Regions from separate parts of the Homo sapiens genome. Here region 2 is linked to region 1. A link means that fine-mapping ties the variant in region 1 to the expression of a gene that starts in the linked region. Tissue or cell type: whole blood. Region 1 holds a variant in brackets; the other region holds the start of a gene. All regions are shown on one strand. Distances are between the middles of the regions.

Region 1 (7,996 bases):
TGAAGACAAGCCCACCACCTGCAATTGCCACAACAATTGCCATGACCTTAGGAAATGACCTCCAGAGGTGTGGTCGCATCTCCAATCAGGCATGTCTTAACTTTCAGTGCATTTTTTATTTACACTTTAGAGGTTTTCGAAGTTATAAGATGAAAAGTTGTAAAATATAAAATCAGTGGTTTGACTCAGACATTATCATAAATGTTTATTCACTCAACTGTCTGGCTAAAAAATAGGCTGATGTGTTATTAGAAAGATAAAGTGATTCATGTTATCTCAATGGGTGCTACATATTTATATAAAGAGAAAGGACAGATTTTTTTAAAAACTTGAGAATGTTTATAACTAAATTATTTTAGTGGAACTTGAAGACGCTAAAATACAAATGTTTTTGTTTCTATATGTCATATATAATAATCTTGTGAACATGTATAGTTTCATTTGCCATTTTTGTTTTTATTTAACAAAGTTTATGAAAATGAATGGAATGACAGTGAAAAGATGGCAGTATTTTTTTTGAATTGTTATTGTTTGAAGGTGCTTTTTTTTGTTTTGGTTTTTGTGTTGTTTATACAATAATGATAGCATGTTTGTTTGTCATAATTGATTTTTTTTTATAGATGAAACAGTCCATGGAAGAATTTCGAAGCCTTGCTTCTCGATATGGAGATCTTTACCAGGCATCTTTTGATGCTGACTCAGCAACTTTGAGGAATGTTGAACTGTATCCCAAGCTTGCCCTAGTACTTCTTGTTCTTTTTGGAAGTATTCTTTTAAATACGGACTACCTCAGATATGCTTACCTACAAAATACATGTTAAATAACCCTATAAATTTATTATATAGTTTCCCCTTTAAAATATATAAGCAGAATAATCTTACTTTTTAACTTTACCCAGGATTTTAACAAAAAATGGTGACTCGAAGGTGTCTTTTTTATATCCAGAAAGAGCATCCAAAGCAACATCCAAAGCCAGTGTTGCTTACCTGTGCTCACTTGAGCTACAACAGACAACACAACACATTTTCCCACCAAAGAACATGTATTTCACCTCACCTTTCTTTGTGGCCAACAGTCCTAGTTTTTATCACCTTTATTAATGATCTCTTCAGTAGCATTAGTTGTCACTTTTTTTTTTTTTTTTTTTTTGAGATGGAGTCTCACTCTGTTGCCCAGGCTGGAGTGCAGTGGCATGATCTTGGCTCACTGCAACCTCTGCCTCCTGGGTTCAAGCGATTCTCCTGCCCCAGCCTCCCTAGTAGCTGGGATTACAGGTGTGTGCCACCACAACCTGGCTAATTTTTATATTTTTAGTAGAGACGGGGTTTCACCATGTTGGCCAGGCTGGTCTCAAACTCCTGGCCTCAAGTGATCTACCTAAAAGTGCTGGGATTATACACGTGAGCCACCGTGCCCAGCCTGGTCGTCACTTTTAAACCCTTCCTAAGTTCTCCATATTTTCTTATTAGCAACTTCAAATCACTTTTGAAAGGAAGGAATAGAAATTCTTTTTTTAAGTTGTAGGACTTTCCAATCAGTAGTTCTTGGCATTTAGTTTACTGATTGAAACCCAGTGAATGCTATGGGCCCTCTGCCCTACAAAATGCATATATACAGAGACACCCAAAATGTGCATGTAAGTTCAGGGAGTTGCCAGACCTCTTGAGCACTAGATTAGGAACCTCTGGGATAAAGGCTCCTTAGACCACTGTGTTTTGTTTTTGTTTCTATTTTTTTTTTAACTTTTATCAGTGAAAGCTTTATTTGCTTGTTTGTCTCAAACTCTTATGAAAAACCCCTATATCTAAGACAGATAAAAACAGACTTGCTGTAATTGAATCACGGGGCCTATCACTTGATTTCCCCTTCCCACAGTAGTAGCCTCCGAAGTACCCTTCTTGGAACAGAGTCTGAGGATCACTATTATAGACAATGTATATCCCTTAAAAAGAAAAGGTAGAGCCCCAGACCATTCGAGTTGATAACATTATGATTACCTTCACTAGGCAATCATTAAATCTTGACCAATTTAGTATTCAAGTAATAGAAACCTATAGCGGGTTTCTTCTCTATTTTCGTATGTAACCTTAACATCAATCCAGACAGCAGCAGAGCTGTTTACTGATATCTCATGCAATAGAAGCCCTGATTTTGGATCCAGAATCAGCAAGGTAATTCTAATATTAATAATAGTTGGCGTTACAGAACACTTTCTATACATTGTCTTACCTAATCATCAGAAGACTATTTTGGAGCTAGTACTATGGAAGTAAAAACAAAGTGGAAGAATTCTTCAGCATTTTTTGTGGGTCACATAACTAGTGACAAAACATAGATTTACCTCCTGCCTCCTGTTTTCAAAAAGTTAACATGGAAAGATAACTGGGAAGACATTCTTTGAATATGAGCAATTTCTTCTTGTATATTATAATTATACTACGAAAAATTGAGTTAATGATACAATTAAACTTGAACTTGAGATTTTTTTCCTTTGGCTTCTTAAACCAAAATATCCCTGGTTTTGCTCTTTTAAATTTTTCCCCTCCCCCAATAACTAATTAATTATTCAAAATAGTTGTTTTCATTAAAGAATGATTCCTTTTTCTTTTCCTATTATAGTATTCTCTTTTGGAATATACATTTTCTTTCTTTTTTAACTTTTAAGTTCAGTGTTACATGTGCAGGTTTGTTATATAGGTAAACTCGTGTCACCGGGGTTTGTTGTACAAATGATTTCATTGACCAGATTTTAGGCTTAGTACCCAATAGTTATTTTTCTGGTCCTCTTTTTCCTCCCACCTTCCACCCTCAGGTAGGCCCCAGTGTGTGGTGTTCCCCTCTATGTTTCCATATGTTATCATTTATCTCCCACTTCTAAGTGAGAACGTGTGGTATTTGGTTTTCTGTTCCTGCGTTAGTTTGCTGAGGATAATAGCTTCCAGCTCCATCCATCTTCCTGCCAAGGACATGATCTTCTTTTTTATGGCTGCGTAGTATTTCATGATGCATATGTACCACATTTTCTTTATCTGGTCTGCCATCGATGGGCATTTAGGTTAATTCCATGTGTTTGCTATTGTGAGTAGTGCTGCAGTGAACATATGTGTGCCTGTGTCTTTATGATAGAATGATTTCTATTCCTTTGGGTATATACACAGTTATGGGATTTCTTGGCCGAATGGTAATTCTGTTTTTAGCTTTTTGAGGAATCACCACAGTGCTTTCCACGATGGTTGAACTAATTTACACTCCCGCCAACAGTGTATAAGGGTTCCCTTTTCTCTGCAACCTCACCAACTTCTGTTATTTTTTGATGATGTAATAATAGCCATTCTGACTGGTGTGAGATGGTATCTCATTGTGGTTTTGATTTGCATTTCTCTAATGATCAGCGATGTTGAGTTTTTTTTTTTT[TA/A]TGTGCTTGTTGGCCATGTGTATGTCTTTGAAAAGTGTTCATGTCCTTTGCCCACTTTTTAATGGGCTTGTTTTTTTCTTGTAAATAATTCAAGTTCCTTATAGATGCTTGATATTAGAACTTTGTCAGATGCATAGTTAGAAAAATTTTCTCCCATTCTGTAGGTTGTTTGTTTAATCTGTGGATAGTTTCTTTTGTTGTGCAGAAGCTCTTTAGTTTTATTAGATCCCATTTGTCAATTTTTGCTTTTGTTGCAATTGCTTTTGGCATCTTTGTCATGAAATCCTTGCCCATGCCTAGTCCTGAAGGTTGTCTTCCAGGGTTCTATCATTTTGGGTTTTACATTTAAGTCTTTAATCCATCTTGAGTTGATTTTTGTCTGTGGTGTAAGGAAGGGGTCCAGTTTCCATCTTCTGCATATGACATCGGTTATCCCAGCACCATCTATTGAACAGGAAATCCTTTCCCTATTGCTTGTTTTTGTCAGCTTTGTCAAAGATCAGATGGTTGTAGGAGTGTGTGGCCTTGTTTCTGGGCTCTCTATTCTATTCCATTGGTCTGTGTGTCTTTTTGTATACCAGTACCATGCTGTTTAGGTTACTGTAGACTTGTAGTATAGTTTGAAGTTGGGTAGCCTGATGCCTCCAGCTTTGCTCTTTTTGCTTAGGATTGCCTTGGCTGTTTGGGCTCTTTTTGGTTCCATATGAATTTTAAAATAGTTTCTTCTAATTCTGCGAAGAATGTCGTTGGCAGTTTGATAGGAATAGCATTGAATCTATACGTTGCTTTGGGCAGTATGGCCATTTTAACAATATTGATTTCTCCTATTCATGAGCATGGAATGTTTTTCCGTTTGTTTGTGTTATCTTTGATTTCGTTGAGCAGTGTTTTGCTTTCATCTCCCCAGTTAGCTGTATTCCTAGGTATTTTATTCTTTTTGTGACAGTCATGAATGGGAATGCATTCCTGATTTGGCTTTCAGCTCGACTGTTGTTGGTATATAGGAATACTAGTGATTTTTTATATTGATTTTGTATCCTGGATCTTTGCCGAAGTTGTTTATCAGCTTAAGGAGCTTGTGGGCCAAGACTATTGGCTTTCCTAGATATAGTATCATGTCTGCACACAGGGATAGTTGGACTTCCTCTCTTCTTATTTGGATGCCCTTTATTTCATTCTCTCACCTGATTGCTCTGGCCAGGACTTCCAATACTATGTTGAATAGGAGTGGTGAGAGAGAGCATCCTTTTGTTATGCCGGTTTTCAGGGGGAATGCTTCCAGCTTTTGCCCATTTGGTATGATGTTGGCTGTGGTTTTGACATAGGTGACTCTTATTATTTTGAGGTATGTTTCTTCAATTCCTAGTTTATTCAGAGTTTTTTTTTTAATATAATGGGATATGGAATTTTATCAAAAAGCCTTTTCTGCATTGATTGAGATGATCATGTGGTTTTTGGCTTTAGTTCCATTTATGTGATGAATCACATTTATTGATTTGGATGTGTTGAACCAACCTTGCATCCCAGAGATAAAGCCTACTTGATGGTGGTGGATAAGCTTTTTGATTTGTTGCTGGGTTCAGTTTGCCAGTATTTTTTGAGGATTTTTGCATCAATGTTCATCAGGGATATTGGCCTGAGGTTTTTGTTGTTGTGTCTCCACCAGGTTTTGGTATCAGGGTGATGCTGGCCTCGTAGATGAGTTAGGGAGGAGTCCCTCCTCCTTAATTTTTTTGGAAAAGCTTCAGTAGGACTGGTACCAGCTCTTCTATGTATACCTGGTAGAGTTTGACTGTGAATCCATCTTGTCCTGGGCTTTTTTTTTGGTTGGTAGGCTGTTTATTACTGATTCAATTTCAGAGCTCATTATTTGTCTCATCAGGGATTCAGTTTCTTCCTGGTTCAGTCTTGGGAGAGAGTGTATGTTCAGGAATTTATCCATTCCTTCTAGATTTTCTAGTTTGTGTCCATAGAGGTGTTCATATTTCTGTGGTGTCAGTGATAATATCTTCTTTGTTGTTTCTAATTGTGTTTACTTGGATCTTCTCTCTTTATTAGTCTAGCCAGCCGTCTATCAAATAGATACTAATTTTTTTTCAAAACACCAACTCCTGGATTTGTTGATCTTTTGAATTTTTTTTGTGTGTCAGTCTCCAATTCAGCTCTGATTTTGATTATTTCTTGTCTTCTAGCTTTGGGGTTGATTTGCTCTTCATTCTCTAGTTCTTTTAGTTGTGATGTTACTTTGTAAATTGAGGTCTTTCTAACTTTTTGATGTAGGTGTTTAGTGCTGTACATTTCCTTCTTAACACTAGCTGTGTTCCAGAGATTCTGGTATGTTGTTTCTTTGTTTTCATTAGTTTCAAAGAACTTCTTGATTTTTGCCTTAATTTCATTTCTTGCCAAAAAATCATTCAGGAGCACGTTGTTTAATTTCCATGTAATTGTATGGTTTTGAGCGATTTTCTTGGTCTTGATTTCTAATTTTATTGTGCTGTGGTCCAAGAAAGTGGTTATTATTTTCATTCTTTTTCATTTGCTGAAGATTGTTTTGTGTCCAACTGTGTGGCTGATTTTAGAGTATGTGCCATGAGATGATGATGAGAACAATGTATATTCTGTTGTTTTTGGGTGGAGAGTTCTGTAGATGTCTATCAGGTCCATTTGATCCAGTGCTGAGATTAAGTCCTGAATATCTTTGTAATTTTCTGCCTCAGTGATCTAATACTGTCATGGAGTGTTGAATTCTCTCACCATTATTGTGTGGGAGTCTAAGTCTCTTTGAAGGTCTCTAAGCACTTGCTTTATGAATCTGGGTGCTCCTGTGTTGGGTGCATATGTATTTAGGATAGTTAGGTCTTCTTGTTGAATTGAACCTTTTACCATTATGTAATACCCTTGTCTTTTTTTTTTTTTTTTTTTTTTAATCTTTGTTGGTTTAAAGTCTGTTTTGTCTGATTTAGGATTGCAACTGCTGCTTTTTTCTATTTTTCATTTGCTTGTTAGGTTTTTCTCTATCTCTTTATTTTGAGCCTATGGATGTAATTGCATGTGAGATGAGACTCTTGGCATACCATTGAGTTTTGGTTCTTTATCCACCTTGCCAATCTGTGCCTTGTAATTGGGGCATTTAGCCAATTTACATTAAAGGTTAGTATTGATGTATGGATTTGATCCTGTCATCATGATAGCAGCTGGTTATCATGCAGGCTTGTTTGTGTGGTTGCTTTATAGTGTCTCACTGGTCTGTGTACTTAAGTATGTTTTTGTAGTGACTGGTCTTTCCTTTCTATATTTAGTGCTTCCTTCAGGAGCTCTAATAAGGCAGGTCTGGTGATAACAAATTCCCTCAGCATTTGCTTGTCTGAAAAAGATAGTATTTTTCTGTCACTCATGAAGCTTAGTTTGGCCGGATATGAATTTCTTGGTTGGAATTTCTTTTCTTTAAGAATGTTGAGGCCGGGCAAGGTGGCTCATACCTGTAATCCTAGCACTTTGGGAGGCCGAGGTGGGAGGGTCACTTGAGGTCAAGAGTTTGAGACCAGCCTGGCCAACATGGTAAAACCCCGTCTCTACTAAAAATACAAAATTAGCCGGGCATGGTGGCACGTGCCTGTAATCCCAGTTACTCAGGAGGCTGAGGCAGGAGAATCTCTTGAACCCGGGAGGCAGAGGTTGCAGTGAGCCAAGATCATGCCACTGCACTCCAGCCTGGGCAACAGACCAAGACTCCATCTCAGGAAAAAAAAAAAAAAGAATTGAATATTGGCCCACAGTCTCTTCTGGCTTGTAGGGTTTCTGCTCAAAGGGGTCTGCTGTTAAGTCTGATGGACTTCCCTTTGTAGGTGGCCTGACCTTTCTAGCTGCCTTTTTTTTTCTTTTTTCATTGCGACCTTGGAGAATCATGATTATATGTCTCGAGGATGACCTTGTGAAGTATCTTACTGGGGTTCTCTGCAGTTCCTGAATTTGAATGTTGGCCTCTTTTTCTAGGTTGGGGAAGTTCTCGTGGATGATACCCTGAAATATGTCTTCCAAGTTGCTTCCATTCTCCCTATCTCTTTCAGGACATCAGTGAGTTGTAGATTCGGTTTCTTTACATAATCCCATATTTCTCGGAGGTTTTGTTCATTCCTTTTCATTCTTTTTTCTCTATTTTTTTTTCTTTTTTCTGAGACAGAGTCTCACTGTTGCCTAGGCTGGAGTGCAGTGGCGCGATCTCAGTTCACTGCCACCTCTGCCTCTCAGGTTCAAGTGATTCTCCTGCCTCAGCCTTCTGAGTAGCTGGAATTACAGGCATGCAGCACCATACTTGGCTAATTTTATTTTATTTTTAGTAAAGACGGGATTTCAACATGTTGGCCAGGCTTGTCTCAAACTCCTGACTTCAAGTGATCGACCCATCTTAGCCTCCCAAAGTGTTTTTTCTCTATTCTTGTCTTACTCTCTTATTCAGAAAGCCAGTCTTCAAGCTCTGTGATTCTTTCCACAGCTTGGTCTGCTTTGCAATTAATTTTAAGGATTGCATTATGAAATTATTGCAGTTTGTTTTTCTACTCTATCAAGTTGGTTACATTCTT
Region 2 (7,996 bases), 130 kb after region 1:
TCTCAAACTCCTGACCTCAAGTGATCTGCCTGACTCAGCCTCCCAACGTGTTGGGATTACAGGTGTGAGCCACCACACTCAGCCAAGTGTGGATGATTTGGCTCACCCTATCTGAAAAATTTTAAGGTTATAAGCCCTGGAGCATTTTATATAAAATAATTATTGACATGAATATAGAAGAGAACATCCATATATATTTCCATTTTTTGTTTGAAGTTAAAGCTGACAACAGTCAGAATGCATGACTCTTTTGGGCTGCTGATTTCAAGCCTGCAACTGTTTCCTAGCAATGTAGGGGGCCTGTGCCAAGTCATTGAAGGTTATTGCTGGTAGGGTTTCTCCCTAGACAGGAAATAGTTCACTGGAGCTTTAGTGCAGAAACCAACACAGGTAGGTAAAATGTTTTTATAATTGCCACTAGGAAAAAGAGAGGGCCCAGGGGGTACTCTTCTGCCCAAGGGAACCTCTCCCTGGTTATAACCTAATTTGTTGTGTGTATGTGGACTAGATGGGTGGAATTCAACCTTCTAAGGTATTGTGGTTATATTGCTTTCAAATGACTGGCGATTCCAAGAAATGTAAGAAATCCTCTTTCTTTTTCAAAGGACCATTCTCTTGTGGTTCAAATGTGGGCTTTTGAAACAGAAACAATAATGTCTGTGGCTATAGGGTGGGGTCTGTTCATTTCCCTCTTTTCTCTATTGGAGTGTACATGAAGGTGTTGAAATTGTTGGCTTCATGTTTGTGTTTTGATAAAGATGGCTCTAAGGTAGCAGGATAGGGGACTAGAAGCTAACTAGTCATTGAAGAAGATCCTTGTTTTCCACAGAACAGTCTACCCTGGAGAACTGGCTGTTCCAATCTTCCTGTTACAGTCATTCAGAGCATTCATACATCTCTCTGTCCATGGTGCAATAAAATAGGCTATGGAACAATCTCAGGAGGCTTCCTAAGTGGTTGAAAGGAGGCAGGGCAAAAAAATTGTAGTATAGGCAAGAGGAAGGTAAAACTAACTAAAACGAACTTCGAAATGCAAGAAATAAACACAAGCATCATCTGAAATTGTTCCCTTAAGAAGTCAGCCCTAACAGTTTCTTATCTATTATAGCAGCTGAATTATCTTGAAACTGATATTGTGGTCAGAAAGTTAAGAAGATAACCCCTCTCCTACACTCTTGGCACAAAACCAGGGCATATCTATACCTGGAACATAATGTGTTGTACTGTTGGTTGAGTTTCAAGAAAAGTCCAATGAGGTTGGAAGCAGTTAATATGAGGATATCTGAAAAGATCAAGGAGATTAGGTATTCCCTACTCCTTCCATAAGGAGGTACTGAAATGGCAGAATTCTGCAATGAGAGATGGTGATCAGCAAGCCGAGGGGACAGGCCTCAGAAGAAACCAGACCTCCCCACACTTTGATCTCTGATCTTGGCCTTCAGAACTTCGAGAAAATAAGTTTCTGTTGTTTAAGCCACCCAGTTTGCAGTATTTTGTTATGGCAGCTCTAGCTGACTAACACACATGAGAACACATATGATCAAATGATTTAAAATTATGAAGGGTCTAGAAGAGAATGTGATCATCTCAGAATACCTCTAAGTCAGGGTTTCTTAAAGCAAGGTCTGCATACTACTTGCATCAGAATCACCTATGACGCTTTTTAAAAAGCAGGTTCTCAGGTCCACTGGACCTAGATTATTAAAATGTTCTGGTATGATGCTGAAGAATCTGTCTCTTTGGTAGACACTTCAAGTGTTGTTTTTGTACACTAAAGAGCCAGAGGTCCTGCCCAACCTCTGGCTCTTTTCTGAGCCTGAAAATGAATTCTGGGCCTGGTACTAATTGCATTTCATCAAGTGCTGCTGTGTCTGGTCCTCTGGCAGATGGTCCCTGATCCAGGAATCACGTGTAAATCCCATTGTAGGTTATCTCTCTCCAGGTGTCAGCCAACGTTTACGCAGCATGTGGGAAAGCTGAATTGCATGGACCAGATGGAATCCTTAGAGTTTATTCTTGATTGTGGAAATAAATATGTACCTCACCTATCTTACTGAAGAATATAATGACATATTTTGAATAATAAAGTATATATATTATCTCTCTCATGAGATTTATTTAAAGATCTTACTACCTTGTCAATAAAGAGAGAATGCAAGGAATAGAATGGGGCATATCTTTCCTTCACCTGTGGACCTAAGAGGAACTGAAATTAGAGAAAGTTGAGAGTCCAGAGCAAACGCTGTGATGAACATTTTCAAAATAGGCAGAATAGGTGGCATTCTGATTCAAATATGGCAGTTCCCTAGGGAGTGTGAAATCTGCCCTGCCCCATCCCCTCCATTTACAAATGTGCTTAAGGGACATAAGGTTTTATAAACAGGATTTTTAAAAACTAAAATTTAGGCAGATCATTTAAGAATGCTCAAGGGGGTAGGTCAATGGACTATTTCTCTATTTTCCTTCAGGTGGTCCAGCCTTTGAACCAGAATGCAGCTATAGTATCCCAAGTGACGGGGTCTGTCTAGGAGTTCCCATGGCCACTGTTTTTTGTCTTTTCGGTTTTTCTTTTTATGGCGGGCGGGGGAGGGCGGGCGGGTGAGTACTTACTTAATGCCAGGCACTTGGTTGTTTTTTCCTTCTTGACTAACCAGATTTCAGTTTCTCTGTGTAGACCATTCATTCCCACTGAGTTTCTTGGTGGGGTGGTGGGGGCGGGGGCGATGAATGGGAAAGTGGAATTGCCATTAATGTTCCAGCTGCTTTCCTGAAACAAGACTTTTGACCGTAAAAAGAATGAATTTGAAACTCTAGACAATAATACACTGCAGAGGTTAAGAAGAAAAGCCATGAGTGCAACCGGGTTTCATTAAGAATGAAAAGTGGACATTTAGCCGTCAAGGAGACAGGTTCCTAGTTTGGGCAGAGAAGAGAGCCCTAACAATGAAAGGCGGCCGTGTTGGCTGAAAGGGGGCTCTCAACTGAAACCAAGGCACTCCTGGGGTGTGAGGATGGGTGTTCATTCCTAGATCTTTCCGAGCGGCCCTTTCCCTCAGTATGTTCTGGACTCACTGAGGTCCTGGCCGAGCGTCCAGGTAGCCCCGAGGGCCCCGACTCGCTGGCGCAGGGGTAGGGGGAGCGGGCCAGGCGGGGCAAGCGGGCCAGGCAGCGGCGGCGGCGCTTTCATTAGAGGGCGCTGTGGGAGCGGCTCCGCCGCAGTCCCGACTCCCGCCGCTTCCTCCCGCCGCCCCTCCCCGCCAGTCCGGGCGAACGCGGCCGGGCCCTTGGGGACCGAGTCTCGGCGCCGCCGGGGAACGGGCGCGGGCCGCGCCACAGCCGGAGCGGGGCAGGGCCCCGCCACCGCCTTCTTCCGCCGGCCCCGCCGCCGGCCATGCATTCTTCCGGCTCCTCTGACTCCCAAAGCCCCGGCTGGGGCCCGGCCAGCCCGAGGTAACCTCCGGCTCCGCGGTCGCAGGCCCCAGAGCGGCAGCGGAGCCGGGCCAGGGGAGGCGCTGGGGGCGGGGAAGGGGGTGTCGTCGTCGCGTGGCCCGGGGAGGCGGCAGCGGCCTGAGGGACGAGGGCGCGGTAGGCCCCGGGGAGGAGGCGGGGGCGCGGGGCATCCGCCCGCCTCCCCGGGACCCGCCCGGGTGACAGGTCCGGCCTCTGAGTCCCCGCCGTCCCTCTGTCCGCAGGCAGCCGCGAGGGGAGTAGGGCGCCAGCGCGCCCGCTCGCGCAGCGCCTCGGGCCGCTTGGGCCGCCACCGCGTCCATGACCGCGACCCCTCGGCGGGGGACACCCGCCCCCGCTCTCCGCAGCCGCCCGCCGTCCGCGCCCGCCGAGGTGAGCCCGGCGCGCGGGCCGCGCCCGCCGCCACGACCCTTCCACATCCGCGGAAACCGCTGCAGGCTCCACCGGCTCCCCGCGCTGCGGTCGCCTCTTCTCTGCCCCTTTCATCATCCCCTGCTTCCTTGCCCTCTGGTCGGAAATCTCATTCTCTTCATCCCCAGTTCCTTGGCTTTTACCTCTTTCTGGCTTTTGCTCCCTTCCCCCTACTCCTGTCCTTCCTCTTTTTCGCATTATAACCCCCTACTTTCTTCCTCTCACCTTGTAAGCTTTTTTTCTAGGCCCCCCATTTTTTTTCTTAAAAAAAAAAGGGAAACAAAAACCCTATTGCTACAAATGAGAATTTTGAGGGTAACTCTTCGCTAGAGCCAGAGACCTTTTAAAGGAATGCATCGGTGTGCAGGAATCGTGGTGGTGAGGAGACTGAGGTCCTCAGTATCTGGGAAATCTTATTGAGGGGACCCTGTTTCGGTCATGTCACTTGTGTCTTCAGTTTGGAGATCCTGAGGTTGTCTGAAGCGAGTGGATCTATTTTTCTAAGTCCAATAGACGACCGCAGTGAGACACGGTGCGGGGACGGCCACCGATTACTGAATGGGAATTGTGTTATCATTTGCTAAATATATTGTGACATACTTCGTGCCTCGGTGAACAGCTCCCTTGACCTTGTGCGGCTCCTCCTCCCTCGCTCTCTGTCCCCCTCTGGAATTTCCCCTGAGAGATCACCGAGGTACTACACCCGGAAAGCTTCGACCCTCGCTGTTTTATTTTGTGCTGGGGGCGATTTCTATGTTGGTGACTGTTTAGATGTATTTAATGAATTTTCCTTTTTAAGTGAATTTTTCTTTCACCCCAGAAAGACAGGACGGAGTCCAGTGTGAGAATGGCTATAACTTTGGAAGAAGCTCCGTGGCTGGGCTGGCTCTTGGTGAAAGCACTGATGAGGTTTGCCTTCATGGTCGTCAACAACCTGGTTGCTATTCCATCCTACATCTGCTATGTAATTATACTTCAGCCCCTTCGAGTGCTGGACAGTAAGCGGTTCTGGTATATCGAAGGAATCATGTATAAATGGCTTTTAGGAATGGTAGCTTCCTGGGGATGGTATGCTGGATATACAGGTAAGAGTGAGAACACTTTTCTTTAATGCATAAGAAAAAATTTGTCAGGAACCATGATTAAATGTATATTACACTTTGGGTTGAGGATGCTTTCATGTCTTCACTATTGAAAAAAATAAAAAGAAAACAGTTCTATTGGGTTTCTCTTCAGAATCTCAGGAAGACCAATGTTTTCAGAAGTATAATTTCATAATTATGTATTGGTAAATTTCTTAGTGTTTTTATTGTGATTGACATACATTTATTAAAACTGGTCTGCAAAAGCTCTGGTAGAGGAATAGGAGTGCGTTGTATAGGACTCGAGAGCTTATAAAGTGAAGATGTAAGATATTTCATCTATTTCATGGAAGATGCCCATAAACATTGGAAATTTAGAAAAAGAATGGGACCATATTTGTGCTAAGATAGTTTAATAAGTTTCTTCATCATTTAACGTGATATTGTACTGTTAGCCTTTTGAGCAAGCAAAAATGGCTTTCTTTTCTCTTACGTATGTTTCTTTTGTTTATTAGAATCTATATTTTATCTCATAAATCTGAGAGTATTAAATATAAAAAATTAAGTTAACTTTGTTAAGCTAATTTATCTTCTGAGTGTCTTTAAATAGATTGTGATTTCTGCCTTTAAATTGCATTTGGGGAAGCAAGAGTAACACTATTCAGAAGTGGACTTTTATAGAACTAAATGAGAAGTGTTTATTTTCTGAGATAAACCTTATATGCTTTGAGAACTTATGCCCTTGCTGTGAAAATTCTGTATCGTTTATTGTATTTATTTGATTTTTTTCCCTTAAGAATTAAGATAATGAAAAAATCATAGAGGTTTTTAGCACTTGTCAGATGTGGAGGCTTTTAGCACAGAAATTCCTACCTGATAGGCAGGCTCCTTGAAGATCATGCAGATGCTGTGGTCAGTAGAGGCTGTAGTTCATAGCTTGGCAGAGTGAGGAGGGGTACTCCCAGGGTCAAGCAGTATGGCAGTTCTCCATCTGAAATTCTGTCTCCCTCTTTCCTGCCTAGGCTGCACCTGCACATTTTATCCACACACGCAAGAGAAGGACTGATAGTATACAGCTTTTATGGAGTCTGACAGACCCTTGCTATGTCTGAGTATTCTCAGTTGCCCCAGATGAAGCCTTTTCTCCTTCAGGCAGTGGCATTTATTTATTTATTTCTCCTTCAGGCAGTGGCATAATAATGCAAGAGCTGAAGCCCCTGGGATAGTGTATGCGTTGCTTCCTTGTCATCTGTCTTGTTGAGATTCCAATGCTTTTTGGATATAGTAGGTGTGCTTCTAGCCCTTTTTTAGGACTTGGTGGTAGCAATAGCAGTGGTAGAGAAAAAACGAAGTTCTAATCTATGGTGCTGAATTCTTACCTGAATTGCACTGCTGTCTTAGAGTTGCTTGGCTTGGTATAGTTTGAGTGTTCCCAAATATATGTTATATGGTACTAGTGGCTTTATTCTTGTATAGTATACTTAAGTTTGCTTGTTTTAAATTAGCTTATAGTATTTTCAGAAACCCGTTCTAGAAGTTCATTCTGCTTAAAATGAAATTACTGAAATGTTTGTGCGTGTGTATAGTGTATTTAATTGTTAGCATGGTGGGAAGGTAAAATTAATTTGGCATTGACCTTGAGATTGGGAGTGCAGTGGTGCTGCTTGAAGTCAAAGTTAGTTGTCCTATGGCCATAGCATAGCTGCAATGTATTTTTCAGCATATTTTCTTGGGGTATCTCTTCCTTGCTGACTATAGAACTGTGTAATTTCTTTTGCCACCTGCTTGGAATGTGGTCTTGGCATGATCTGCATATTTTAGTCTCTCTGAAGCATCTGCTCTTCTTCAGGCTACTGAATTTTGACAATTTGATCAGTTTGTCTCATTTAAATATAGACTGTTTTAATGTATATATTTTAAAAGGTTTTCCTATAGGTAGAATACTTGATTTCAGAGAGCCTGGTCATAGTCTGATCATAAAAGAAAATAGTCAAGAAGTCAAACAAATGTAGGAATGAATTTGGTTGAAAGCCTCAGCTGAGTTTAAAGAAGCACATCTAAGCAGAGGTTGATGAACAGGTGTACCCATAAAATAATGTCAGGTGTTATATTAGCCTTTCTTTAGATAATATATTTCACTTCTTCCCTTTACATCAATAGGAGGGTGGGCTTGTGAAGAAGTTCTTTTTTCCCTATGCCCAAGTTTCACAGATGGAAAATTGAACATTGCCAAAGGAATTCTGCTCAGCAGATTAAGTATGTTCATGTTTTAGAATAAAAATTGCCAAAACTTTGTTGAGAAACCACTTATGAGGAAACCTTAAATACTAATTAGGAAGCTAAAAATTGAATATTGGTATATTGGTATAGAATGAATATATATATATATATATATCTTTTTCCAAATTATGACATTCCGTGTAATATGAGTGAATTACTCAGCTCTGCTGATGAGGACTTATGTTGATTATCTAACCTACACAGCCCCATATAGTAGCCACTGGCTGCATGTCACTGTTTAAATTTAAATTAATTAAAATGAAATAAAATTTAGCATTTAGCTCCTCAGGCACACCAACCACATTTCAAGTGCTCAGTACTAGGTGGCTAGTGGCTACTGTATGGACAGTGCAGATACAGAACACTTCTATCATCACAGCAAGTACTACTGGACAAAGCTGATATAGTAAGCATGGTTTTCTTTTCTTAGGAAAACTAAATTTTATTTTTATTAAAAAATCTTTCCTTAGTTCTAAACAGATTTTTTTTGTGAAAGACAAGAAGATTTATTAAAGTTTTATTAAACTATCTCTTAACTCATCACAAAAATGAGCCCTGTAAATTCATACATGCTTCTTGGATGAGTAATGGTGAGGCCAGTAAGCCCAAGAACTTAAATGAACATTCTTATACTTTAGTTTGCATTCTCAGAGCTGGGGAACTGTCTGTAGGCACAGAAGATGGAAAAGGGATTTTCTGGTCTGTTTCTGACTTTAAGTTACACATTTTAAAAAGTACTCTGAAGACACTGGGGT

What was found. PIP is the estimated chance that this variant, and not a neighbour inherited with it, causes the effect.
Region 2: LPGAT1 starts here. The variant in region 1 is fine-mapped to the expression of LPGAT1 in whole blood (INTERVAL, PIP above 0.99). The same link has a PIP of 0.9 or more in monocytes.

The regions. Positions count from the first base shown.
Region 1 is chr1:211,960,606-211,968,601 of GRCh38, reverse strand. It overlaps INTS7 (integrator complex subunit 7), which reads left to right. Exons shown (of 20, transcript NM_015434.4): 14 at 1-89; 15 at 621-724; 16 at 2,104-2,172. Among named protein-coding and RNA genes, the nearest start is that of INTS7, 71 kb to the left of the region's middle. RefSeq lists enhancers at 1-67, 68-568. The variant TA/A (reference allele first, on the strand shown) is at 3,416.
Region 2 is chr1:211,826,027-211,834,022 of GRCh38, reverse strand. It overlaps LPGAT1 (lysophosphatidylglycerol acyltransferase 1), which reads left to right and starts at 3,260. Exons shown (of 8, transcript NM_014873.3): 1 at 3,260-3,450; 2 at 4,700-4,964. The coding sequence starts at 4,727. It overlaps LPGAT1-AS1 (LPGAT1 antisense RNA 1), which reads right to left and starts at 3,062. Exons shown (of 6, transcript NR_135820.1): 1 at 2,983-3,062; 2 at 2,611-2,767. RefSeq lists a silencer at 3,076-3,835.